Regions from separate parts of the Homo sapiens genome. Here regions 1 and 2 are each linked to region 3. Evidence: fine-mapped expression QTL. A gene starts in region 3. Each other region holds a variant in brackets. All regions are shown on one strand. Distances are between the middles of the regions. Region 1 has its middle 19 kb from the start of CD27. Region 2 overlaps CD27-AS1 (CD27 antisense RNA 1). Region 3 holds the start of GAPDH (glyceraldehyde-3-phosphate dehydrogenase).

What was found.
Region 1: its variant is fine-mapped to the expression of GAPDH in whole blood (TOPMed, PIP above 0.99).
Region 2: its variant is fine-mapped to the expression of GAPDH in whole blood (INTERVAL, PIP above 0.99).

The regions. Positions count from the first base shown.
Region 1 is chr12:6,421,842-6,430,018 of GRCh38, reverse strand. No RefSeq gene overlaps it. Among named protein-coding and RNA genes, the nearest start is that of CD27, 19 kb to the left of the region's middle. RefSeq lists enhancers at 2,802-3,041, 3,082-3,191, 6,503-6,552. The variant C/G (reference allele first, on the strand shown) is at 4,236.
Region 2 is chr12:6,432,904-6,441,080 of GRCh38, reverse strand. It overlaps CD27-AS1 (CD27 antisense RNA 1), which reads left to right. Exons shown (of 6, transcript NR_015382.2): 6 at 1,405-2,080. It also overlaps the pseudogene SRP14P1. Among named protein-coding and RNA genes, the nearest start is that of CD27, 8.0 kb to the left of the region's middle. RefSeq lists an enhancer at 6,173-6,673. The variant C/T (reference allele first, on the strand shown) is at 4,370.
Region 3 is chr12:6,529,716-6,537,892 of GRCh38, reverse strand. GAPDH (glyceraldehyde-3-phosphate dehydrogenase) reads right to left here and starts at 3,376. Exons shown (of 9, transcript NM_002046.7): 1 at 3,324-3,376; 2 at 3,032-3,083; 3 at 1,300-1,399; 4 at 1,103-1,209; 5 at 883-973; 6 at 677-792; 7 at 503-584; 8 at 1-309. The coding sequence starts at 3,060. It overlaps NCAPD2 (non-SMC condensin I complex subunit D2), which reads right to left. Exons shown (of 32, transcript NM_014865.4): 29 at 7,935-8,118; 30 at 7,076-7,202; 31 at 6,817-6,972; 32 at 5,938-6,566. The coding sequence ends at 6,481. GAPDH-DT (GAPDH divergent transcript) reads left to right here and starts at 3,486. Exons shown (of 2, transcript XR_002957397.2): 1 at 3,486-4,429; 2 at 4,750-5,977. RefSeq lists enhancers at 501-1,274, 2,823-3,596, 3,597-4,370, 4,371-5,144, 5,105-5,234 and silencers at 3,085-3,224, 3,945-4,194.

The DNA of each region.
Region 1 (8,177 bases), 110 kb after region 3:
TCATTTAAAAATGTGCAATTCAGTGCTTTTACTATATTCACAAAGATGTGCAAATATCACAGATACATTTCTATTTTTGAAAAAGTTATAACTACCCTAGTTGGTGTGAAGTGGTATCTTATTGTGGTTTTGATTTGTATTTCACTAAGACTAATGATGTTGAGAATCTTCTTATGTGCTCATCGCCATTTGTATATTTTCTTTGGAGAAATGTCTGTTCAAGTCCTTTGCCCGTGTTTAAATTAAATTATTTGTGTCTTTTGTTGCTGAGTTGCAAGAGTTTTTTTTTTTTTCTTTTTGATATTATGAATTCTAGACCTTACTAGATAAGTGATTTGAAAATATTTTCTCTGGCCCGGGGCGGGGGCTCACACCTGTAATTCCAGCACTTTGGGAGGCCGAGGCGGGCAGATCACGAGGTCAGGAGATCGAGACCATCCTGGCTAACACAGTGAAACCCCGTCTCTACTAAAAATTAAAAAAAAAAAAAAAAAAAATTTAGCCAGGCGTTGTGGCGGGCGCCTGTAGTCCCAGCTACTCGGGAGGCTGAGGCAGGAGCATGGTGTGGAACCCGGGAGGCAGAGTTTGCAGTGAGCCGAGATCGCACAACTGAACTCCAGCCTGGGCGATAGAGCGAGACTCCGTCTCAGAAAAAAAAAAAAAAAAATTTATCCCATACTGTGGGTTGTCTTTTTACCTTCTTAATAGTGCCCTTTGATGCATAAAAATTTCACATTTTGGGCCGGGCATGGTGGCTCATGCCTGTAATCCCAGCACTTTGGGAGGCCAAGGCGGGCGGATCACGAAGTCAGGAGATGGAGACCAGCCTGGCCAATATGCTGAAACCCCGTCTCTTAAAAATACAAAAAATTAGCCGGGCGTGGTGGCGGGCGCCTGTAGTCCCAGCTACTCGGGAGGCTGAGGCAGGAGAATGGCGTGAACCCAGGAGGCGGAGCTTGCAGTGAGCAGAGATCACGCCACTGCACTCCAGCCTGGGAGACAGAGCGAGACTCCGTCTCAAAAAAAAAAAAAAAAGTTTCACATTTTGATGAAGTCCAGTTTATCTACTGTTTCTTTTGTTGCCTGTGCTTTTGGCATCATATTTGAGAAACTGTTGCCGAATCCAAACTCATACAGATTTTCACTTATATTTCCCTCTAAGAGTTTTATAGTTTTAACTCTTAAATTTAGTTCTTTGATTTATTTTGAGTTAAATTTTTTATCTGGTTTTAGGTAGGGGTCCAACTTCATTCTTTTACTTGTGGATATGCAGTTGTCCTAGCACTGCTTCTTGAAAAGACTATTCTTTTCACACAGAATGGTCTTGGCACCCTTGCTGAAATTAATTGACAATAGATGTATGGGTTGATTTCTGGACTCTAAATTGTATTCCATTGATCTGTATGTCTGTCTTTAGGTCAATACCATGGTTTTGATTACTGTAGCTTTATAGTAAGTTTCGAAATTGGGACTTCAACTTCGTTCTTCTTTTTCAAAATTATTTTGGCTACTCTGTGTCCCTTGCATTTGCATGTGAATTTTAAGATCAGCTTGTCCATTTATGCAAAAAAGAAGGCAGTTAGAATTTCGATGGGGATTGCATAGAGTCTGTAGATGAAATTGGGAAATATTGTTACCTTCAGTCCATGAACACAGATGTCTTTCCATTTATTTAGGATTTCTTTAATGTCTTTCAACAATGTTTTCTAGTTTTCAGTGTATGAGTCTTGCACTTTCTTTGTTAAATGTATACCAAGTTTTTTTTTTTTTTTCTCGAGACAGAGTCTCACTCTGTTGTCCAGGCTGGAGTGCAGCGGCCCAATCTCAGCTCACTGCAGCCTCTGCTTCCCAGGTTCAAGCGATTCTGCAGCCTCAGCCTCCCGAGTAGCTGGGATTATAGGTGCCTGCCACCACGCCTGGCTAATTTTTTGTATTTTTAGTAGAGACAGGGTTTTATCATGTCGGCCAGTCTGGTCTCGAACTCTTGACCTCAGGTGATCCGCCTGCCTTGGCCTCCCAAAATGTGGGAATTACAGATGTGAGCCACCGCACCTGGCCAATGTATGCCTAAGTATTTATTCTTTTTGATGCTATTGTAAATTGAGTTGTTTTTCCTAATTTCATTTTTTTTTTTTTTTGAGATGGAGTTTCGCTCTTGTTGCCCAGGCTGGAGTGCAATGGCGCAGTCTCGGCTCATTGCAATCTCCACCTCCTGGGTTCAAGTGATTCTCCTGCCTCAGCCTCCTGAATAGCTGGGATTACAGGCATGCGCCACACATGCCCAGCTAATTTTGTGTTTTTAGTAGAGACTGGGTTTTACCATCATGGTTAGGCTGGTCTCAAACTCCTGACCTCAGGTGATCCCGCCTGCCTCGGCCTCCCAAAGTGCTAGGATTACAAGCATGAGCCACTGTGCCCGGCCCCTAATTTCAATTTCATTTTCTTTCTTTCTTTTTTTCTTCTTCTTTTTTTTTTTTTAGACAGTGTCTCGCTCTGTCACCCAGACTGAGTGGGGAGTGCAGTGGTGCAACCTCGGCTCACTGCAGCCTGCACTTCCCGGGTTCAAGTGATCCTCCCACTTCAGCCTCCCGAGTAGCTGGGACTACAGGTGCATGCCATCATGCCTGTCTACTTTTTGTATTTTTTTGAAGACATGTGGTTTTGCCATGTTGCCCAGGCTGGTCTGGAACTCCTGGGCTCAAGTGATCCACCCGCCTTGGACTCTCAAAATGATTACAGGTGTGAGCCACTGCGCCCAGCCCCGAATTTCATTTTCAAGTTGCTCTTTGCCCATGTAGCAGTTGACATTTGAAGAAGGCAGTTGTTTTCTCCAGAGTTGGAAGGTGGCACCTTGAGGTGTAGGCGTGTTGCTATGACACCCTGTGGGCCGTTGCTGGGGCTCTCTTGTGACTTTTCTGAAGTCACGGATGGAGAGTTTGACTCTGTGACACAAAGGGAAACATGTCTGACTAATCTTTCCCACACTCCCTTTGCCTCTGATGGCTCCCTCGGCTAGGAGAGGAGAGGAAGAGAGTGGGTTGGTGGGGCCTCACCCTTTATTACAGGTGCTTCCTCTGACCCTTCTCTTCTGCAGGATTTTTGGGGCAGCTACTGAAGGGACAGGCACTCCCAAAGGGCAAGGGCTGTGGCAGCCTTCTCTTTTACCCATAAGTTGGCCAGAATTGATGCTGTCTACTTGTTTTTTTTGTTTGTTTGTTTTGTTTTGTTTTTTGGGAGATGGAGCCTCCCTCTGTCACCCAGGCTGGAGTTCTCTCACCCAGGCTGGAGTGCAGTGGCGCGATCTTGGCTCACTGCAACTTCTGCCTCAGCCTTGGGTTCGGGTTCAAACAATTCTCATGCCTCAGCCTCCCAAGTAGCTGGGACCCCAGGCACACACCATCATCCCTGCTTAATTGTTTTGTATTTTTAGTAGAGATGGGGTTTCGCCGTGTTGGCCAGGCTGGTCTTGAACTCCTGGTCTCAAGTTATCTGCCCACCTCGGTCTTTCATTGTGCTAGGATTACAGGTGTGAGCCACCGCACCCGGCCTGATGCTCCCTACTTTGATGTGCATAGAGGAATGTTGCAGGCCACAGGCATAGGCAGGGTCCTGGTGGCTGGTGATGTCAGAGAAGCCTGGGGGGGAAGTCCAAGGATCAATCAGCTGGTGAAAATCTGAAGGAGCGGAGGATGATTCGAGTAAATCTGTGCTGCTTGGCCTGCGTCCAAGGCCGTCTCTCTGCTCAGTCACTTGCTGGCTGCCCAGTTGCTCAGGCTCCGTGGGTTTGTTTCCACTGTCACATGGGGATGCAGATGCTGGCCTCGGAGGGCGGGTGTGAGCAGCCATGTTTGGTAACTCGGGTGAATGCCCTGCTAGGACTTGATGCAGAAGAGGTGCCAGTCAGTGTTCACTGGAGTATGACTTGATCACCAGCAACTTCCTTCTTGACTGGGATAGGGCAACATGAGAGCTGAGAGTTCCTTAAGTGGGGCCGTGCTCAGAATGGAAGGGAAAGAGTGAAGAAATCTACTAGGAAGAGGTGTATGGGAGGCGTATGCGACAAATCTCACCTTTATGAGAGCTCAGCTAGTCAGTGGGAGCTTTAGGTTGAACGGTGTGGGTGCTTCTAGGGCTGAGGAGACCCCATCATATTTTCACGCCAAAGGAATGGGGTGGGCCGGATGGGGAGAGCTGCAAGAAGCAGGATGTTGCAAGTTTGTGTGGTTTGTTTGTTT[C/G]TTTTGTTTTGTGAGACAGGGTCTGGCTCTGTTGCCCAGGCTAGAGTGTAGTGGTGTGATCACGGCTCACTGTAGCCTCGAACTCCTCGCCTCAAGCAGTCCTCCCACCTCAGCCTCCCGAGTAGCTGGAACTACAGGCGCACGCCATGAAGCCCAGCTAGTTTTTGCATTTTTACTAGGGACAGGGTTTCACCAGGTTGTCCAGGCTGGTCTTGAACTCCTGGGCTCAAAGCGATCTGCCCGCCTCAGTCTTCCAAAGTGCTAGGATTACAGGCATGAGCCACCATGCCCGGCAATTATACATTTTAAATATTAATATAATAATGAGGCTAATCTATAATACTTCTATGTCAAATTGTTTAAAATTTTTTTAATTTTTTTTTCTGTAGTTTCATGCATTTCCTATTTAAGTATTAATATATGTCAGATTCTTTTAAGCATTACAAAAACTTTAAGTACCAAATGCATGCAGTGGTTAAAACCTGTTTGAAACTTAGCATGAGTTTGATTTGCTTCATCACTTTTGATTTTTATCAGTTAAGGTTTGACCAGAGAGTCAAAACCACTATGAGTGTTATGGAATAAGGAACTTATTTTAGAGATTAGACCTTAATCAATCATGGCAGCTGGGGAAGGAGTCTTTGGAGGCCTCCGTATCTGTGGTGGACCTGAGGTCACTATGGGTCAGTTGGGAGAAGCACTGGATGTGAAGTGGGGGCAGGGCAAAGGCCATCCGGAGCCTGCGTCTGTGCCTCACCACCACCCACCCCGATGGTATGGGTGTCTGCAGAAGGACCTAGCACTCCTTGCCACGGAGTTGCACTTGTGTGGCCAAGAATTAGAGAAGCTGAAGGAGGCGATCTGACGGGAGCTGGAAGAGCTGCCAGTCTGGCTGCCATCCGTGCAGACAAGGTGAGCCAGCAGATGACTGTCACCCCATGCTGGCCTCAGAGCACGACGGCCGCTCCTATTCTGTTTTCCTACCTCTCAAATCTTACATTTCTCTTGTGGCCAACCCTCACCCAGAACCATACAGGGATTAATTTCCAAGAAATATGGTTTCGTCTTAGCTAAGTTGAGAGGGTAAAAGCCATCATAAAGATTGATTCCAAACCTTCTTGGGGTTAAAAGAACACTCGTCCCCAAGGGGAACGGTTTTACTCAAGTGGGCAGTGTATGACCGTGATCTGTGATTACCGTCTCAGGAAGGCTAACCTTATTTATTTGCCAGATTTGAGGCTAGGAAGCCAGACTTGGGCCTGCGTACATCTATATAGTTCTCAGTTTAGTACAATGTTCCCTTAAATGTTTCAAACTACATTATAAATTTAATAGTTCTGAGTTTGTCTAAGTCTATACCCTTTTTAAAAATTAAAAAAATTTTTTCGCATTGACAACTAATCAAAAGAAGAGTCCATATGCTTCTGATGGGTTTAGATTTGCAACCTGCCTCCTGGGTCCAAATCGTACCCCCACTAGAGTATCTGGAAGTCTGGAATCTCCACCCTCAAGCTGCAGCCCTTCTTGGTGCCTCTTCCTTTTGGCCTGGCTACTGGATCCTTTCCTTATTCTTTCTGTCCGAGTAGGTCACCACTCCATAGCCATATGCATACCTCTGCAGGGCTCTGCTCACAACCCTGAAGTCATGCTCATGCCTGTGAGCACTGGACAGGATCCTGCACGGCCTCAGGAGGAACTCCAGGGAGTGGAGAACAGAAGCGCATGCCACGTTCACGCAGGGTCAGGATCTTACCCATCCAGGGCAGAGATTTTCCCCAGGGAGGAGGGATTACAGGTGCATATGCTGGCACCTGTAATCCCAGCTACTCAGGGTCACCTCTACGGGAGGGACTGAAGCCAGCAAGAACCATACACAAACTCTGTCCTAAAAGGAGCTGGTGAAGTCCCCTGGGGAAGGGGTAGAAGGGCCTTGGGGCCAGTTGCATAACTGGGACCTTCAAGCTGTGGCTCCCTGCCCAAGGAGCCTCTGCTATCCAGTCATGCGCTTGATTCCAATGGAGGCAGGAAGCGCGTCGTCCCATCTGTCTGGGCTTTGGGTGCCCTCTTGTGGCAGAATAGTGATTTCGCTCTTCACACTGTCTCACGTGGCCCTCTCAGGAGCCCAATTAGGGCTTCAAGGCTGTTATTTTGAAGATACGTTTATCGCAGCACTGTTTACAAGAGCAGGGATATGGAATCAACCTAGGGGCCCACCAATGGATGATTGTATAAAGAAAATGTGGCATATTTATACCATGGAATACTACTCAGCCATTAAAAAGAATGAAATTACATCTTTTGCAGCAATGTGGATGGAACCCTTAGAGGCCATTACCTTAAGTGAAATAATTCAGAGACAGAGTCAAATACTGCATGTTCTCATTTATAAGTGGGAGCTAAATAATGTGTGCACATGGACACAGAGAGTGCAATAGTAGACATTGGAGATTTGGAAAGGTGGGAGGGTGGGAGGTGGGTGAGGGATGAGAAATTTCCCAATGGGTACAATGTACACTATTCGGATCGTGGTTATACTAAAAGCCCAGACTCCACCACTACTCAATATATCCATGTAACAAAACTGCACTGTACTCCCTACATCTATAAAAAGAAAACAAAATGGGATTCTAACAGAAAAAAAAGGGACATAAGGGCAGAGGTGCCAGGCGTCGGGTATCCTCCCAGGGCTTCTCTTGTGTCAGCACAGCAGGCTGGGTTTCAGCAAGTTCAAAGAATTTGAGGAACCCCCTAAGGGAGGGCCACTGGTGGGGGCAGAGGGGTGATCCCAAGTACTCCTATCTGTGACTTGAAGAATCTATCTTTAACATAACCTAAAAGAATATACCAAAGGCTGGGCGTGGTGGCTCACGCCTGTAATCCCAATACTTTGGGAGGCTGAGGCTGGCGGATCACGAGGTCAAGAGATTGAGACCATCCTAGCCAACATGGTGAAACCCCATCTTTACTAAAAATACAAAAATTAGCTGGGCATGGTGGCAAGTGCCTATAGTCCCAGCTACTCGGGAGGCTGAGGCAGGAGAATCGCTTGAACCCGGAAGGCAGAGGTTGCAGTGAGCCGAGATTGCAGCACTGCACTCCAGCTTGGGTGATAGAGCGAGACTCCATCTCAAATAAAAAAAAAAAGAAAGAAAGAAAAAAAGAATGCACCAAAGTATGACCTGATCTTGTTTTCTTTTTAAAATTAAAATAGGGGCCGGGTGCGGTGGCTCACACCTGTAATCCCAGCACTTTGGGAGGCCGAGGCATGCGGATCACGAGGTCAGGAGATCGAGACCATCCTGGTCAACATGGTGAAACCTGTCTCTACTAAAAATACAAAAATTAGCTGGATGCGTTGGCACGTGCCTGTAATCCCAGCTACTTGGCAGGCTGAGGCAGGAGAATCGCTTAAACCCGGGAGGCAGAGGTTGCAGTGAGCTGAGATCATGGCATTGCACTCCAGCATGGGCAACAGAGCAAGAATCTGTCTCAAAATAAATAAATAAATAAATAAATAAAATTAAAAAATTAAAATAGGGACAGAGTCTTGCTATGTTGCCCATGCTGGTTCCAACTCCCCTGGCCTCAAGCAATCTTCCCACTTCAGCCTCCCAAAGTTCTAGGGTTACATGAGTGAGCCACCACGCCTGGTTATGATCTGAACATAAAAGCTCCTGTGGCTGGGTGCGGTGGCTCACGCCTGTATTCCCAGCACTTTGGGAGGCCAAGGTGAGTGGATTACCTGAGGTCAGGAGTTCAAGACCAGTCTGGCCAACATGGTGAAATCTTGTCTCTATTAAAAATTAGCTGGGCGTGGTGGCGGGCGCCTATAGTCCCAGCTACTCGGGAGGCTGAGGCAGGAGAATGGTGTGAACCCGGGAGGCGGAGTTTGCAGTGAGCCAAGATCACGCCACTGCACTCCAGCCTGAGCGACAGAGCGAG
Region 2 (8,177 bases), 97 kb after region 3:
AATCTCAAAGACAAATGTAAAATTGGCCAGGTGAGGCGGCTCACACCTGGAATCCCAGTCACGTTGGGAGGCCGAGGCGGAAGGATTGCTTGAGCCTAGGAGTTTAAGACCAGCCTGGGCAACAGAGTGACACCCCGTCTCTACACATAATAAAAATAAATTAACTGGGTGTGGTGGCACGTGCCTGTGGTCCCAGCCACTCGGAAGGCTGAGGTGGGAGGATCACTTGAGCCCAGGGGGTCGAGGTTGCAGTGAGCCATGATCATGCCAGTGCACTCAAGCCTGGGAGATAGAGCAAGACCTCATCTCACAAAACCCAAAAAACAAAACAAAATTAAAATTAGTTAGTAATGGTCATTATTGCTATGAAGGAGAGAGTTGGGGTGCAATATAGGTGTCTATACCCCTAATAGGGGGATTTAAGGGGTAGGGAGTGCCTCATCCAGGAAGCAAAGTTTAACAGAGATATGTGGGATCTGGCAGCTCTCCACCTACATGAGAATTATTACTTCCCTTGGTTTCTGTGACACGATTCTATTTTCCTTGCTTTGACCACTTGTTTTTTAAGTGCTATTTTTTATTTTTTTATATACAGATTATATACAATAGGGATAATCTGTTCCTTGAAAGCCTGGTAGAACTTGATTTGCTTGTGTGTAGCTGTTTCACTGTTATTATTATTATTTTTTTTAGGCTGTCTTGCTCTGTTGCCCAGGCTGGAGTGCAGTGGCATGATCTTGGCTCACTGCAACCTCCTCCTCCTGAGGTCAAGTGATTCTCCTGCCTCAGCCTCCTTAGTAGCTGGGATTACAGGTGTGCGCCACCACACCTGGCTAATTTTTGTATTGTTAGTAGAGACGTGGTTTCACCATGTTGGTCAGGCTTGTCTCGAACTCTTGAGCTCAAGTGATCCACCTACCTTGGCCTCTCAAAGTGCTGGGATTACAGATGTGAGCCACTGCACCCGGCATACTTTGCCATTCTTTTTCTAATGTATTGGATGCTTAATTAATTTAGAAATTTCTTATTTTCTAATATATGCATTTAAGGCTATAAACTTCCCTTGAAGATCTACTTTAGCTACATCTCATCAGCTTTGCTATATTGTTTTTTTCATTATTGTTGATTTGCTTTTCCCGTTATTATTTATTTTTACCTATATTTCATTTATAAATGCATTACAAATTTTCCAGATCTGTGGGGCTTAACTTTTTGTTGTTTATTATTTTAATTTTAAATTTATTGTGGCCCGAGCACTCTGTCTGTGTAGCATGGCAGGCAGCACGTTGGTCCCCCGAGGACATCTGCGCCCCTGAACTGCATGTTAATATGGCAAAGGGGAGTTAAGGCTGCAGATGGAATCAAGGTTGGCCTTGCAATGGGTGATTATTCTGCATTATCCAGGTAGACCCAGTGTAATCACAAGCATCCTTGTAAGTGGCAAAGAGGCAGAGGAGACAGCGCCAGAGAGGCAGCTGCATGAGAAGGATCAAGATGTTGCTGACTTTGAAGTTGGAAGAAGAAGGCCATGAGCCTCAGTATGTGGGCGGCTTCTAGAAGCTGGAAGGGGCAAGGAGATGGATTTGACCCTTCAGCCTCCAGGGGCAGCTGTACCTGCCATCACTGATTGTAGCCTGGTGAGGCCTGTTTTAGACTTCTGACCTGTAGAGCTGTAACATAATACATTTGGGTTGTTTTCAACCACTAAGTTTGTGGTAATTTGTTGTAGCAGCTGTAGAAAATGAATACATATGAATCCTCTGGCATTTGTTTGAGATTTGCTCTATGGCCTAGTATGTGGTTGTAAATGTTCCATCTGTGCCTGAAAAAATGTATATTTCTAATTCAGTAGTCTCTGCTTTTTTTTTTTATTTTGTACCCCATCAATAAAATGATTTTCAGCATGTATCCCCAAATAAACAATATTTTATTTATTGATTGATTGATAAACAGACATGTTTAATGATAGCTTGCTTTTCACAGAGGTGACTTCGGAGACTTCTAATCTATAATCCAGGAGTATATAACCATGCAGCACAGACCAATTAGTCACATGTAAAATAAACTAGATTCTTACCACAACTACCCTGTAAACATGGCAACTATTCTTTCCAAGAGGACCCTAATCTTATGTGAAAACACCTACTGTGGGGGAACCAGAAACCTAGCTATGTGGCCAAAAGTAAAAACCAAAGGAAAAAATAGCAATTCAGTGGTTAATTGGTGAAAGCAGGGAATTTGTGCCCTTTACTGTGCTGCTGCTTTGGTCTTTTTCCTTTTGCTCTTTTTGTCCCTCTTCTCAGCCCGTCCATGTTAGCTCTCAGTAGGTTTGAATAAGCCATCTGAAACTTACTCACTTCCTTGGAGTTCACCACAGTGCTCATCTTCTTTTTCCCATCGATAGCTCTTAACAGACACTTGTTGTCTGAGGGCTCAAAGCCCTCCACAGAACCTTTCTTTGGAATGGGTTTGGTTCGACCATCATACTTCTTCAAGGTGATATAGACGCTGCCCAACGTCCGGCACTTCTGGTAGAGTCTGGTCAGCTCCGTCAGGAATTGCTTGCTCTCCAACGACATCACTGCGGCGACGCTGGCTCGACTCCCCACAATATTTTAAATAAATTAATCATATATTATATACTCAAATAGGTTCTATGTAAGTATATGTAGACATTCTAAAGTTCTAAAGGATGAGATCGAATTACATAGTCACATACAGAAACATAAAAAGGATGAGATTGGCTAGATGCAGTGGCTCATGCCTGTAATCCCAGCACTTTGGGAAGCTGAGGTGGGAGGATCGATGAGCTCAGGAGTTTGAGACCAGTGTGGGCAACAACAACAAAATAATAAAAGTAAAATAAAAACAATGAGATAAGGATAGGAAAAACAATTTTTAAAGATATCACATTTACTTATTTGCAACATAAAAGATCTAGTTGCTCTCATTAAAATATTAATAGGTAACAAAATTTTCCACAATATAATAAAACATTAACAGTAATATATTTAGTAAGAGCAATATGATTTAATGTGTTTTGTTATTAAAAAACTTTCCTCAACACTTTATATAGATTGATCTGAGTCTAAGCACAAATATTTGATTTTTATGACTGACTTAGATGAAAAAGTTTCTCTAGGTCAGACTGTTTCAGGTGTGTTTTCTAATTTTGAATCAAAAGTGCATCTTCAAGCCCATCACAGTGGCTCACACCATAATCTCAGCACTTGGGGAGGCTGAGGCAGGAGGATGGCTTGAGGCCAGGAGTTTGAGACCAGCCTGGGCAACACAGTGAGACCCCACTGTACTCCAGTGCCGGTGACGGAGTGTGACCCCATCTCCATTAAAGAGAGAGAGAGAGGGAAAGAAAGTGCATATTCAACAGGCTTTTTCTGTGGGCCACCTTGGTGGTTGGGTTGAGTACATGTCCCTTCAGTGTTTTTGCAGTTGCTTTTGTCAGACGCCCCAGGGATGTCACTGGCTTGAGACCAGTTTTCATGTTCTTTTCTTGGGGATAAAGGAGGTTTCCCAACCACGTGGGTAATATAAATTTTACCCCCATACCTGGCCGAGCACAGACCTATAGTTATGTTTTTGTTGTTGTTGTTGTTTTTTTTTTGAGACGGAGTCTCGCTCTGTCACCCAGGCTGGAGTGCAGTGGCGCGATCTCGGCTCACTGCAAGCTCCGCCTCCTGGGTTCAGGCCATTCTCTCGCCTCAGCCTCCCAAGTAGATGGGACTACAGGCGCCCGCCACCACGCCCGGCTAATATTTTTGTATTTTTAGTAGAGACAGGGTTTCACCGTGTTCATCAGGATGGTCTCAATCTCCTGACCTCGTGATCCGCCTGCCTCGGCCTCCCAAAGTGCTGGGATTATAGGCGTGAGCCACCATGCCCAGCCTCTTTTTTTGTTTGTTTGTTTGTTTGAGACAGGGTCTCCCTCTGTTGCCTAGGTTGGAGTGCAGTGGCAACACAGCTCAATACAGCCTCAATCTCCTGGGCTCAAGCAATCCTCTTGCCTCAGCCTCTCGAGTAGCTGGGACCACACCTGGCTAATTTTTTTTTTTATTTGTTATCTTTTTGTAGAGACAAAGTCTTGCTATGTAGCCCAGGCTGGCCTTAAATTCCTGGGCTCAAGCAATCCTCCCACCTTTGCCTCCCGAAGTGCTGGGATTACAAGGCGTGAGCCTGGTCACACTTTCTTTTTTGGGACTTGTCACACTTGTGATTTTACGTGATCTGTGATTTATAGGATTAATTTTGATCTGAGGTAAAGCTAATTTCTGAAATCAGATATTATGTAAATTGTTAGGTGTAAGGTTTGAGTGCTGACTACTGAGGTTTTCTGACTCTCAGTCTATGTAGC[C/T]AGGGAAGGGCAAGACCTATAAAAGGAATTTCTCAGATACCAGGCAAGGGGAGAAACAGTGAGGGAAAGATGTCGCTATGAAGGGAGCAGTCTTGACCTGGAACTGAAGGGTGGTTCCAGGGCCCAAACCCACTGAGACAGGAGGATCCTGGGATAGGTGGAGAGAGCTTGACTTTCACAACCAGACAGGTTGGTGGTCCAAATGCCTCTCTGCCGGCTACTACCCGCATCATGTCCAGCATGTCCCACAACCTCTTGACTGAGTCCTCATCTGCTTGAGGATAGTGTCGTGCACTTTGCAGCATGTTGGGACAATTAAGGGTAACAATAGAAATGAAATGTCTGGTCTTGTCTTGTTTGGGTACTCAATAAATATTCATTCCTCCTCTCTCTTCCTTGGTATTTGAGGCTGCAAGTCCCAAGAAATGGGGTTGAGGGAACAGCTAGTTAACCTGGGAACGAAACCAAAGGAGTGTGAAAGAGACAGAACGACTCACTAAATTGAACAAGCTGTGCATAGGCGATATGTCTGCTCTGTATGTATTATTCATACTCGGTTCTTCATCACGCAGAATCATGATTTCACAAGGCGACGGGACGTTTCCTCTCACAGTAGGCTCCTGGGCCCCTGGCATTTTTTTTCTTTCTTTTTTTGAGATGGAGTCTCACTCTGTCACCGAGGCTGGAGTGCAGTGGCAAGATCTTGGCTCACTGCAACCTCCACCTCCCAGGTTCAAGCAATTCTCCTGTCTCAGCCTCCCAAGTAGCTGGGATCACAGGCATGCGCTACCACTCCTGGCTAATTTTTGTATTCTTAGTAGAGACGGGGTTTCACCATGTTGACCAGGCTGGTCTGAACTCCTGACCTCAGGTGATCCACCCGCCTTGGCCTCCCAAAGTGCTAGGATTAGAGGCGTAAGCCACTGTGCCCAACTGCCCCTGGCATTTTCTACTCGCTTTTTTTTTTTTTTTTTGAAACAGGGTCTTGCTCTGTCACCCAGGCTGGAGTGCAGTGGCACCATCTCGGCTCACTGTAGCCTCGACCTTCTGAACTCAAGCAATCCTCCTGCTTCAGCCCCCCAAAATATCTGTGACTATAGGCATGCGCCACCAAGCCCAGATAATTAATTAATTTATTTTTTTTGAGATGGAGTTCCGCTCTTGCTGCCTAGGCTGGAGTGCAATGGCGCGATCTCTGCTCACTGCAACCTCTCCCTCCTGGGTTCAAGCGATTCTCCCGCCTCAGCCTCCAGAGTAGCTAGGATTACAGGCATGCGCCACCACGCCCAGCTAATTTTGTATTTTTAGTAGAGACAGGGTTTCTCCATGTTGTTCAGGCTGGTCTCAAACTCCCGATGTCAGGTGATCCGCCAGCCTTGGCCTCCCAAAGTGCTGGGATTACAAGCGTGAGCCACCGTGCCCTGCAAGCCCAGCTAATTTTTGTATTTTTTGTAGAGATGGAGTTTCACCATGTTCCCCAGGCTGGTCTCGAACTCTTGAGCTCAAGTGATCTGCCCACCTTTGCCTCCTAAAATGCTGGGATTACAGGTGTGAGCCACCGTGCTGGGTGGCTGGGCCATTCTTGCTCTTCTGAGTGACTTCCCTTGCTCACCAGATGAGGGAAATGGCTCATGGAGCCAGTCTGGTGATCCTCCCTGTGGCGGGGAGGGAGGCACGCCCCACTTTCCCCAGCTGTTTCTGAGCCTCATGACTGTGAGCCCTGAGAGGGACCTAAGACCTTTGTTTCCCCTGCTAGTCCGTGGTGCGGTGTCTGAGCCTGAGCTCTTAGGGCAGCTTCCTTCCTAGGGCCGTGCTGGAGCCTGCTAGTACTGCCTAGCCAAAGCCCGATCCTTACATTTTCAGGAATTTTGTGAGGTTACTCGTTGGTAGCTTGAAATTGGCCAGCTGGCCATAGTAGGAATACTTACAACCACATACATCAGCAAACGCCATAGATCAAGGGCTTCCCACTCCGAGAGCTGGCTGTTAACCACCGCACCACCACTACTGACTTACTGGGGTGAGGCCCAGTCATTACTTTTAGTCATTTTTTGGGTCTTGGAGAGACAGAGTTCTTTCCTATCTGGGCTCCTGTCCCCTCCTCCTGGCTTCTAGGTAGAAGGTCCTGTGGGCCTATGGGGAGCCCCCATCTTACTGCTCCAGCCAGCTTAGGATTTCAAGCCAGCAGGGCTGGAAAATGATTCCAACCTTCGGCTTTACCCTCTCACTCTACAGCTATCAGAACCGTGGGGTGCAGAGGTGAAATGACTTTCCCTGTGTGGCAGAGCTGGGAGAGAACCCAGGTCTCCTGAACCCCAGTCTACTGTTGACGAGCCCCTACAGAGTGGACGCCTCAAAGGTGCTCATTTCCTGTGCCGATCTGACTGTGTACTCACAGTACCTTCCATGCTCAGCCTGCAGGCATGGCTCAGCCGCCCTTCCTGCCTGTCTTCTTCTGGTCTCATAGACCGTTCCCTGCCCTTTCACTCTATGAGCCCATCCCAACTGCTTTCTCTTCTTTTTTAAAATTGAAATTTAATTATAAAAGCAATATTCATATCACCTCCTTATAAAAAATTAAACCAGCAAAATCCATCATTTTCATCAGTAGGTAAATGCACTAAGAGTGCTTGTACCTGTGCCCCAGGAGACATATGCAAAAATATTCAAGCACTACTGTTTGTAATTCCAAAAGAAAAAGCAAGCAAGCAAGCAAGCTGCTGTGGTGTCTCACACCTGTAATCCCAGCACTTTGAGAGATGGAGGCGGGCAGATGGCTTGAGCCCAGGAGTTTGAGACCAGCTTGGGCTACACGGCAAACCCCCATCTCTACTAAAAATACAAAAATTAGCCGGGCGTGGTGGCACATGCCTGTAGTCCCAGCTACTCTGGAGGCTGAGGCATAAGAATAGCTTGAACCTGAGAGGCGGAGGTTGCAATGAGCCGAGATCGCGCCACTGCAAAAGAAAGGAAGAAAAGAAAGGAGAAGGGAGGAAGGGAGGAAGGAAGGAAGGAAGGAAGGAAAAAGAAAGAGAAAGAAAGAAAGAAAGGAAGAAAGAAAGAAAGAGAAAGAAAGAAAGGAGGAAAAGAAGGGAGGGAAGGAGGGAGGAAGGAAGGAGAGAACGGTAGTTGGATAATAAATTGTTGTATATTCACCCAATGGAATGCTTTAGAGGAATGAATATGAACCACCTGCATGTAGCCATGTAGATTAATTTGCATGAATGTCAAAAATATAATATTGTACATCGTGAATGTACTTCATGCCCCCTGAATTATACATTTAAAAATAGTTTAAATGGTAAATTTTATGTATATTTTACCACAATATAAATAAATAAATAGATAGAAAAACATGTTAAGTGATAGTGCACAAACACACAGAAGCAAGGCATAGAAAAGTACATACGATTCCATTTATAAAGTTCAAAAACAGGCAAAATGAAGCAGTTTGCTGTTCAGGGTGCACACAGATGGTAGAACTAGAAAGGAAAGTGAGGAAGTGATAGACACAAGCCAGAGCTGCTTCCCCCGGTGAGGAGGGAAGGTGTGATCAGGGCGCTTCGAAGGTTCTACTAATCTTCTGATCTGAACGTGGGTTTTCAATGTGTTATTTTTATGTACTATTTTACATATCTTAGTTCACAATAAAAAGTACAAATTATATTTTAAAAATTGGAGGTGAAAATGAAAAAAAATGGAAAATTATAGAGAAGACTCAGGTTCCCTTTGATCAATCTCCTCCCCCAATCCCTGGTCCTCTCCCTACCTCCTTAGTGTAGGCACTGTTTTCAGATTATTGAGTATT
Region 3 (8,177 bases):
CTCAGTGTAGCCCAGGATGCCCTTGAGGGGGCCCTCCGACGCCTGCTTCACCACCTTCTTGATGTCATCATATTTGGCAGGTTTTTCTAGACGGCAGGTCAGGTCCACCACTGACACGTTGGCAGTGGGGACACGGAAGGCCATGCCAGTGAGCTTCCCGTTCAGCTCAGGGATGACCTTGCCCACAGCCTTGGCAGCGCCAGTAGAGGCAGGGATGATGTTCTGGAGAGCCCCGCGGCCATCACGCCACAGTTTCCCGGAGGGGCCATCCACAGTCTTCTGGGTGGCAGTGATGGCATGGACTGTGGTCTGCAAAAGGAGTGAGGCCCTGCAGCGTACTCCCCACATCACCCCTCTACCTCCCTCCCCACCTTGAAAGGAAATTATGGGAAAGCCAGTCCCCAGAACCCCCAACCCCAGGGTTGCACGCAGCCCCGGCAGGGAGGAGCCAGTCTTGGATGAGAAAGGTGGGAGCCTCAGTCCCATTCCCCAGCTCTCATACCATGAGTCCTTCCACGATACCAAAGTTGTCATGGATGACCTTGGCCAGGGGTGCTAAGCAGTTGGTGGTGCAGGAGGCATTGCTGCAAAGAAAGAGGGAGCGGGGCGCAAGTCAGGGGAGCGTGTCCATAGGGTGCCAGGCTGGCCGCTTCTCCACGGGCCCTGCCTTCCTCACCTGATGATCTTGAGGCTGTTGTCATACTTCTCATGGTTCACACCCATGACGAACATGGGGGCATCAGCAGAGGGGGCAGAGATGATGACCCTTTTGGCTCCCCCCTGCAAATGAGCCTACAGCAGAGAAGCAGACAGTTATGAACCCGGGTCCTGCCTTTGCAGGGCTGAGTCAGCTTCCCCTCCCGCGGGCCCTCCTGCACTCACCCCAGCCTTCTCCATGGTGGTGAAGACGCCAGTGGACTCCACGACGTACTCAGCGCCAGCATCGCCCCACTTGATTTTGGAGGGATCTCGCCTATGGGGGTGGGGGGGAGATGGGGACAGGACCATATTGAGGGACACAAGGTTACCATATACCCAAGGGAGCCACACCATCCTAGTTGCCTCCCCAAAGCACATTTCTTCCATTCTGTCTTCCACTCACTCCTGGAAGATGGTGATGGGATTTCCATTGATGACAAGCTTCCCGTTCTCAGCCTTGACGGTGCCATGGAATTTGCCATGGGTGGAATCATATTGGAACATGTAAACCTGGGGGAATACGTGAGGGTATGAAGGGGCTGCCCATCAGCCAGGTGGCTCCTCCCACACCAGCTTTGGGGCTCACCATGTAGCACTCACCATGTAGTTGAGGTCAATGAAGGGGTCATTGATGGCAACAATATCCACTTTACCAGAGTTAAAAGCAGCCCTGGTGACCAGGCGCCCAATACGACCAAATCTAAGAGACAAGAGGCAAGAAGGCATGAGGAGGGGAGGCTCCTCCAGAATATGTGAGCAGCCCTAGGCCACCTCCCCATTAAGAGGGCGAATGCAGCATCTCCTTACCCCCAGGAGGGCCCAAGAGGTTGAATTTTATCTCCCTTGAGCTTCCCTGCCAGGCTGGCCTGGCTTAAGGCATGGCTGCAACTGAAGGCTCCAGGGCTGCCCAACACCCCCAGTCATACGAAGCCCTTCCAGGAGAAGCGGCCATGTGGGGCACTGCCACCCACAGTCTGGGCACAAGCTTTGTACATGGTATTCACCACCCCACTATGCCACCCCAGGAATGCTTGCTGCTGCCTAGCTCAGCTGCACCCTTTAGGGAGAAAACGCTTGTACACTCAGCATCATCAAACTCAAAGGGCAGGAGTAAAGGTCAGAAATTAACTGGACAGGGCAAGCCCACCCCTTCTCTAAGTCCCTCCTACAAAAGGGACAGAGACTGGGGCGGGTGGGAAGAGGGGAAGCTGTATTTTAACCCCCTAGTCCCAGGGCTTTGATTTGCCAAGTTGCCTGTCCTTCCTAGCTCTTTTCCAGAAATCAGGAGTGGGAGCACAGGTAAGTGCATGTGTGTGGGGAGAAGGGATGGGAGAGAGCCCCAGCCCAGGCCCCCAGCTACAGAAAGGTCAGCAGCTATATTTAACCTCAGACCAGGGTGCGGTGGGAGATCTGGTTTCCGGAAGACGGAATGGGGAGAAGGGCAGGTTCCCCGAGGCGCCCAGACACCCAATCCTCCCGGTGACATTTACAGCCTGGCCTTTGGGGTCGGGTCAACGCTAGGCTGGCAGGGGAAGGGCGGGGCCGTGAGGTGAGCCGGCGCTGCAGGAAGGGGCCACCACCAGAGGGGCCATTTTGCGGTGGAAATGTCCTTTTCCAACTACCCATGACTCAGCTTCTCCCGGCTTGGCACCATGCCACAGCCACCACACCTCTGCGGGGAGGGGACACAAGAGGACCTCCATAAACCCACTTCTTTGATTTACCAGAGAATAATCTAGGAAAAGCATCACCCGGAGGAGAAATCGGGCCAGCTAGCCTCGCTCCACCTGACTTCCCCGCCACACGCGACTCCACCCATCGAGGCAGGAGCGCAGGGTTAGTCACCGGCAGGCTTTCCTAACGGCTGCCCATTCATTTCCTTCCCGGTTGCAACATGGCGGCCGCTCTACCGCAGGCGCAGCATCCGGACAGGGATGCACCCGCTGCGCACTAGCATCCCGGGGCCTGCGGTGCCGGAGGCCGTGGGGGAGGGGCTCCTCTGCGACACGTGACCCCGCAGAGCGCGAAAGGAAAGAAAGCGTCCCCCACCTAGGGGTCCGGGTCGGGATCTCGGGCGGGAGTAGGGACCTCCTGTTTCTGGGGACTAGGGGAAGGAGGCTCCGGGCAGATGGCGCCGCAAGGGCGGAGCTGCACAGGGCGCCACAGCCTGGGTGCGGGGCTCCGCCAGGTCCGAGCGCTGACCTTGAGCTCTCCTTGCGGGGAACAGCTACCCTGCCCCCATACGACTGCAAAGACCCGGAGCCCGCAAGGCTCGTAGACGCGGTTCGGGGGCGGTCGCAGCCCAGGGCCCCCCAGCCACCCGCGAACTCACCCGTTGACTCCGACCTTCACCTTCCCCATGGTGTCTGAGCGATGTGGCTCGGCTGCGCGGAGGGAGAGAACAGTGAGCGCCTAGTGGCCCCGGCCGACACACACGCCTCCCCTCCCCTCCCCCACCAGGCCTCCATGCCCAGCCCGCGCCGCATCACGTCCTCCGCCCGCCCCTGCAATGCGGAGGCCGCCCGGGCCCACCCCGCAGCGGCGCGAACACATCCGGCCTGCGCCCGCCCCTGCCGCCTTCAGGCCGTCCCTAGCCTCCCGGGTTTCTCTCCGCCCGTCTTCACCTGGCGACGCAAAAGAAGATGCGGCTGACTGTCGAACAGGAGGAGCAGAGAGCGAAGCGGGAGGCTGCGGGCTCAATTTATAGAAACCGGGGGCGCGGCGGCAGGCGGTGACTCGGACCCCGCCTCCCGCCAGGCTCAGCCAGTCCCAGCCCAAGGTCTTGAGGCCTGAGCTACGTGCGCCCGTAAAACCGCTAGTAGCCGGGCCCTACTTTCTCCCCGCTTTTTTTTTTCCGCAGCCGCCTGGTTCAACTGGGCACGCACCGAGCGTGTGGGCCCCGACGTAGGGGGGAAGGGACTGAGATTGGCCCGATGGGAGGTGATCGGTGCTGGTTCCCAGGACTGGACTGTGGGCAGCAGGACACTAGGGAGTCAAGGACGGGGACCCTTACACGCTTGGATGAAACAGGAGGACTTTGGGAACGACTGAGATGGGGAATTGGAGCCGGAGCCCAGCACCGCTCGCGGCTGCACGCGGCCTGCCCCCTCCCCTTTCTTTCTTTCAAAGGCTGAGAGGCGGGAAAGTTGGGGAACTTCTCCTCGAGGCTCTGCGGTAGTGACACCGGACTGCTCAGGCAAAGGCCTAGGAGGGGCCCATGGGCCTCGGGCGGGGGCCCGTGGTTCCTTCCCAGCCCCCACTTCCCCCTCCCCATCTCCTGGCTCCTGGCATCTCTGGGACCGAGGCCTGGGCTGGGCACTGGGCACTGGGCACTGGGGGCCTGGAGAGGAAGGAGGCTCGGGAGGCGGCTTGAGGGGGAGGGGGAGGTTTCTGCACGGAAGGTCACGATGTCCTGCAGCCCTGTAGCCTGGACCTGATAATTAGGGCAGACAATCCCGGCCCTGTGTGCACCAGCGGCTCTCTCCGGGCTGGGGCCCCAGGCGGAGGACAGGATGGCTGGTGGGGGCCCAGAGGCCTCCCACAAAGGCACTCCTGGAAACCTGTGGGCTGTGCTGCCTAGGGAGAGAGACAGTGTGCCTTTCATTCCATCCAGCCTGGGGCGAAGAGCGGGACGTGAGGGCGGAAGTCCCTCCCCGCCCTGGGACGTGCAGGCGAGCCAGGAGCCAGGGACTCCCTTTCACTGGCTGCGCCGGGGGATATTGAGGGCAGGGTGAGTCAAGAAGAGGGAAAAAGTGGGAAAAGAGGTCTTGGGCACACGGTGGGAACAGGTCCCCTGCCCCCTCCCACAGGGGATCCATTCTTCTGGTAGGAGGGCAGAGGGCCAGGTTTGTGAGTGTGGGATGGGAGGGTGCTGAACACTTGTAAGGAAGGGGGTGGGGTGGGGTGGCCTTGGCCCATCAGCAGGTGCATGGGAGGGGGATCCCGGGCCTCTTTGCTGGCCCAGCATAACCTGACACCAGCCCCCTGCCCTTCTAGCTAAAAGCCGGTTGCTAAGTTTAGCCTGCCTGGTGATAATCTTTGCTTAAAAAGCACCCACAGGACTCCAGTCCCTGACCCTGCCTTTCTGGGATTGCCTTTCCTGCTGGGACCCAGAGCCAGGCTGTGTCCTCGTCTGGCTGCCACTGGCATGGTTGGTGCGGGCTTTTCACAATGACCACCCAGAGCAGAGTAGCAAGAGCAAGGCAAGAAGGTCCCTAATGGTGAAAGGGGTGGGGTGGGGGAGTGGAGGAAGCCCCACCTCTGACTCAGCTATTCCTGCAACCAGGACCGTTAACCCTTTCTCATTGAGAGCATTAAGAGCACCTCCATGCTCCTGCACCACCCAAGCGTGATCTTCCCCTCTGCCTCATGCTTGTCATTTTTCATTACTGTCTTCTCCCCGCAAAGAGGGAGCTCAGTGCCCAGGGAGCACTACTGACGTAGTGTGCTGTTGTCATGACAGCAGAGGCACCAGTGTGGTCACGACAGCCAGCTCACAGCCTCCGGTTCGAAGGTGACTCAGCAGAGAAGACTTGAGGAGCTGGAGAGGGGTGCGCAGGCTTCAGGGGGCAGCCCGCCTGCAGCATAGCTCACGCCCTCTGCAGACCCGGGAACAATGAGGAATGCTGGGAGACAGGTCTTGTCTCCTGCAGAGCTGGAGGGGATCATGATCTGAACTTCCACGAGCCTGGGCCGGTCTGCTGCCAACCTTTGGAGATGGGATTAGGGAACACGAGTGGGGGTGGGGTGAGGCACACGGCAGAAAGCAACCCTTGGTCTAGAGCAGGTTTTCTCAACTGTGACGCTATTGACATTGTGGGCCGTGTGATTCTTTGTTGAGGGGCCATCCTGTGCACTGCAGGATGTTGAGCCACATCCCTGGCCTCTTCCCACAAATGCTGGTAGCATTCTTCCCCTATAGGCTATGACAACAAAACAGGCCCCAGGTGTTGTCAGATGTCCTCTGGCAGACAAAATTGCCCCCGGTTCAGAAGCACTGATCTGGAGCCTAGGCACTGCATAATTCTCCCCAGAGAGGCTGTCTGGTCACTGTGCAGGGTCCAGAGGTTGAGAGGGGAAAGGTGGCAGTGACGGGGCAGGAAGCTCATCTGCCATCCCGGGACAGGCCCTAGGACTCTGGGCTCACTCATCTCTCTCTGCACTGATAACCCTCTCTCTGCTGCATGAAACTGGGCTAATGTGAAAGATGAAACAAAGACAAGCTTAGGAAAAAATGTCTAAAAGTATATAAAAACATTTATTCATTAGAAAACAAGGAGATTGGCAAACATATATTCCAAAGTTGAAGCAGCTCAACGCAGTTCAGTTAGGCTAATTTAAGAGAAAGCCTTGCATTTTAAAGAGCGTGTAGGCATTTTTTTTTTAATTTGAGATGGAGGTTCGCTATTGTTGCCCAAGCTGGAGTGCAATGGTGTGATTTCGGCTCACTACAACCTCCGCCTCTGGGTTCAGGCGATTCTCCTGCCTCAGCCTCTTGAGTAGCTGGGATTACAGGCGCACGCCAATACGCCCGGCTAATTTTTTATTTTTAGTAGAGATGGGGTTTCTCCATGTTGGTCAGGCTGGTCTCGAACTCCCTACCTCAGGTTATCCACCCGCCTTGGTATCGCAAAGTGCTGGGATTACAGGCGTGAGCCACAGTGCCCGGCCTTTTTTTTTTTTAAAAAAAAGAGACAGACAAATATTTTACAAGGGAAACAGAATTCGAATTCCAGGTCACCCTACAGGATACCCTGCACAGGGAGGACAGGAACAGACTTCCTAGGATCTGTGCCTGCGAGCCGATGCTCTGAGAATGGGAGTTGTTTTCTTGGGTGTCTCGTCTTCTGTCATCTCTGCTGAAAGATCTATGCAAAGAATTAAAGGAATAAGAAAAAGCTGAGTCACAAAGATGGTGAAAAAATAGATATCAGAGAACAAGTGAGACAATCCCACACCGCACAGAAGAAATAAAATCCAAGCTGTACAGGAGAGGCCCTTCTGCGGCAGTGGGGCAGAGCATCTACACTCAGGCCCCCGCAGCAGGTCCTATGGAAACCAGCCCTCTGCACCCTAGCTGTGTGCCTTCTCGGCCGGGAACAGGCGGGAGCATCATACCTTCCTCACTGGACTCATCACTTGAGAAGACAACTTTGGGTTTCTTTTTGGAAGCTCGCTGCTGGGTGTTTGGATGCCGACGGGTAGTACGGCGGGGCTCTGGTGTGACAAAGTCATTGTCTGAGGCTGTAGAAGCCAGAGGCTGGTACCTAGAACCTAGAAAAGGCAGGAAAACGTGATTTAAAAAAGAAGAAGAAACAAATCACTGCAGGAGGGGAGGGCCCAGTCTGGTCTCGCCCGCACAGGCTGCCTTACGTACCAGTGGATGGTTTCTTGGCTGATGGCGCTCTCTGGCTACCTGCTTGGCCAATCTCAAGCTCCTTGATTCCATCCAAACCTCTGGTATGACAGGCCCGAAGCTTCTGCTCAAATTCATCTATTATAGCCTGGAGGGAGAAAAGGAGATTCAGAGCAGGCCTGAAAACAGTTACTTCTGATTAAAAAGAAACAAGGCCATGGAAGACATGGAGGCCTTAAACGCACATTACTAAGAAGCCAAGGTGAGAAGGCTCCATACCGGATCATTCCAATGATACATTCTGGAAAAGACAAAGTGATGGCAACAGTAAAAAGATCAGGGGTTGTGGGGAGAGAGGGATAAATAGGTGGAGTGCAGGGGATTTGTAAGGCAGTGAAACTCTTCTGTATGATACTGCAATGGTGGGTACATGTCATTACGTGCAGTGAACTCCAAGGTAAACCATGACTTTAGGAGATGATGTGTAAGTGTAGGTTCAGCTGTAACAAATGTGCCACCCTGGTGCAGGATGTTGAAGGTGGGGAAGGCTGTGATGTGTAGGGGCAAGGGGTAGAAGGGAACTCCCTGTACTTTCTGCTCAATTTTGCTTTGAACCTAAAACTGCTCTGAAAAATAAAAACTATTAAAAACAAACAAACAAGAATTGGATGAGATGCTGCTTTGGTTGTGTTTTTGGAGTAATAAAAAAAGAACTGGAGACAAAGATCTGGTCTTAGGTCACTCTGGCAATTTGGTTGCAACCCAGCTGGGGATAAGGAGGACGGGAAGGTGACTGCAAGAGCCGTATGCTGCCCAGGGCCGGCAGATGTCTTAGCCAGCCCAGAACCCAACAGGCATTGAAGTGTCCTGTGCTGCTCACCTTGCCCTCAGGCTTGGCCCCACGTCGCAGCTTGCCTACAACTGACAAAAAAGCACTGAAGATGGACTCATCTGACAGTTTGTCTCCAAAACAGTCAAAATTGTCAAGCATCTTACGGAGGCCTCGCTCTGTGAGGGGCAGCTGTGACACACAGTAGGCCAGGTCTCGCTGCTGCCGCTCAGTTCTGCAGATAGGAAGGGCTTTGTGAGGAACTGGGAGATCCAGCTAGTAAAGGCTCAACCT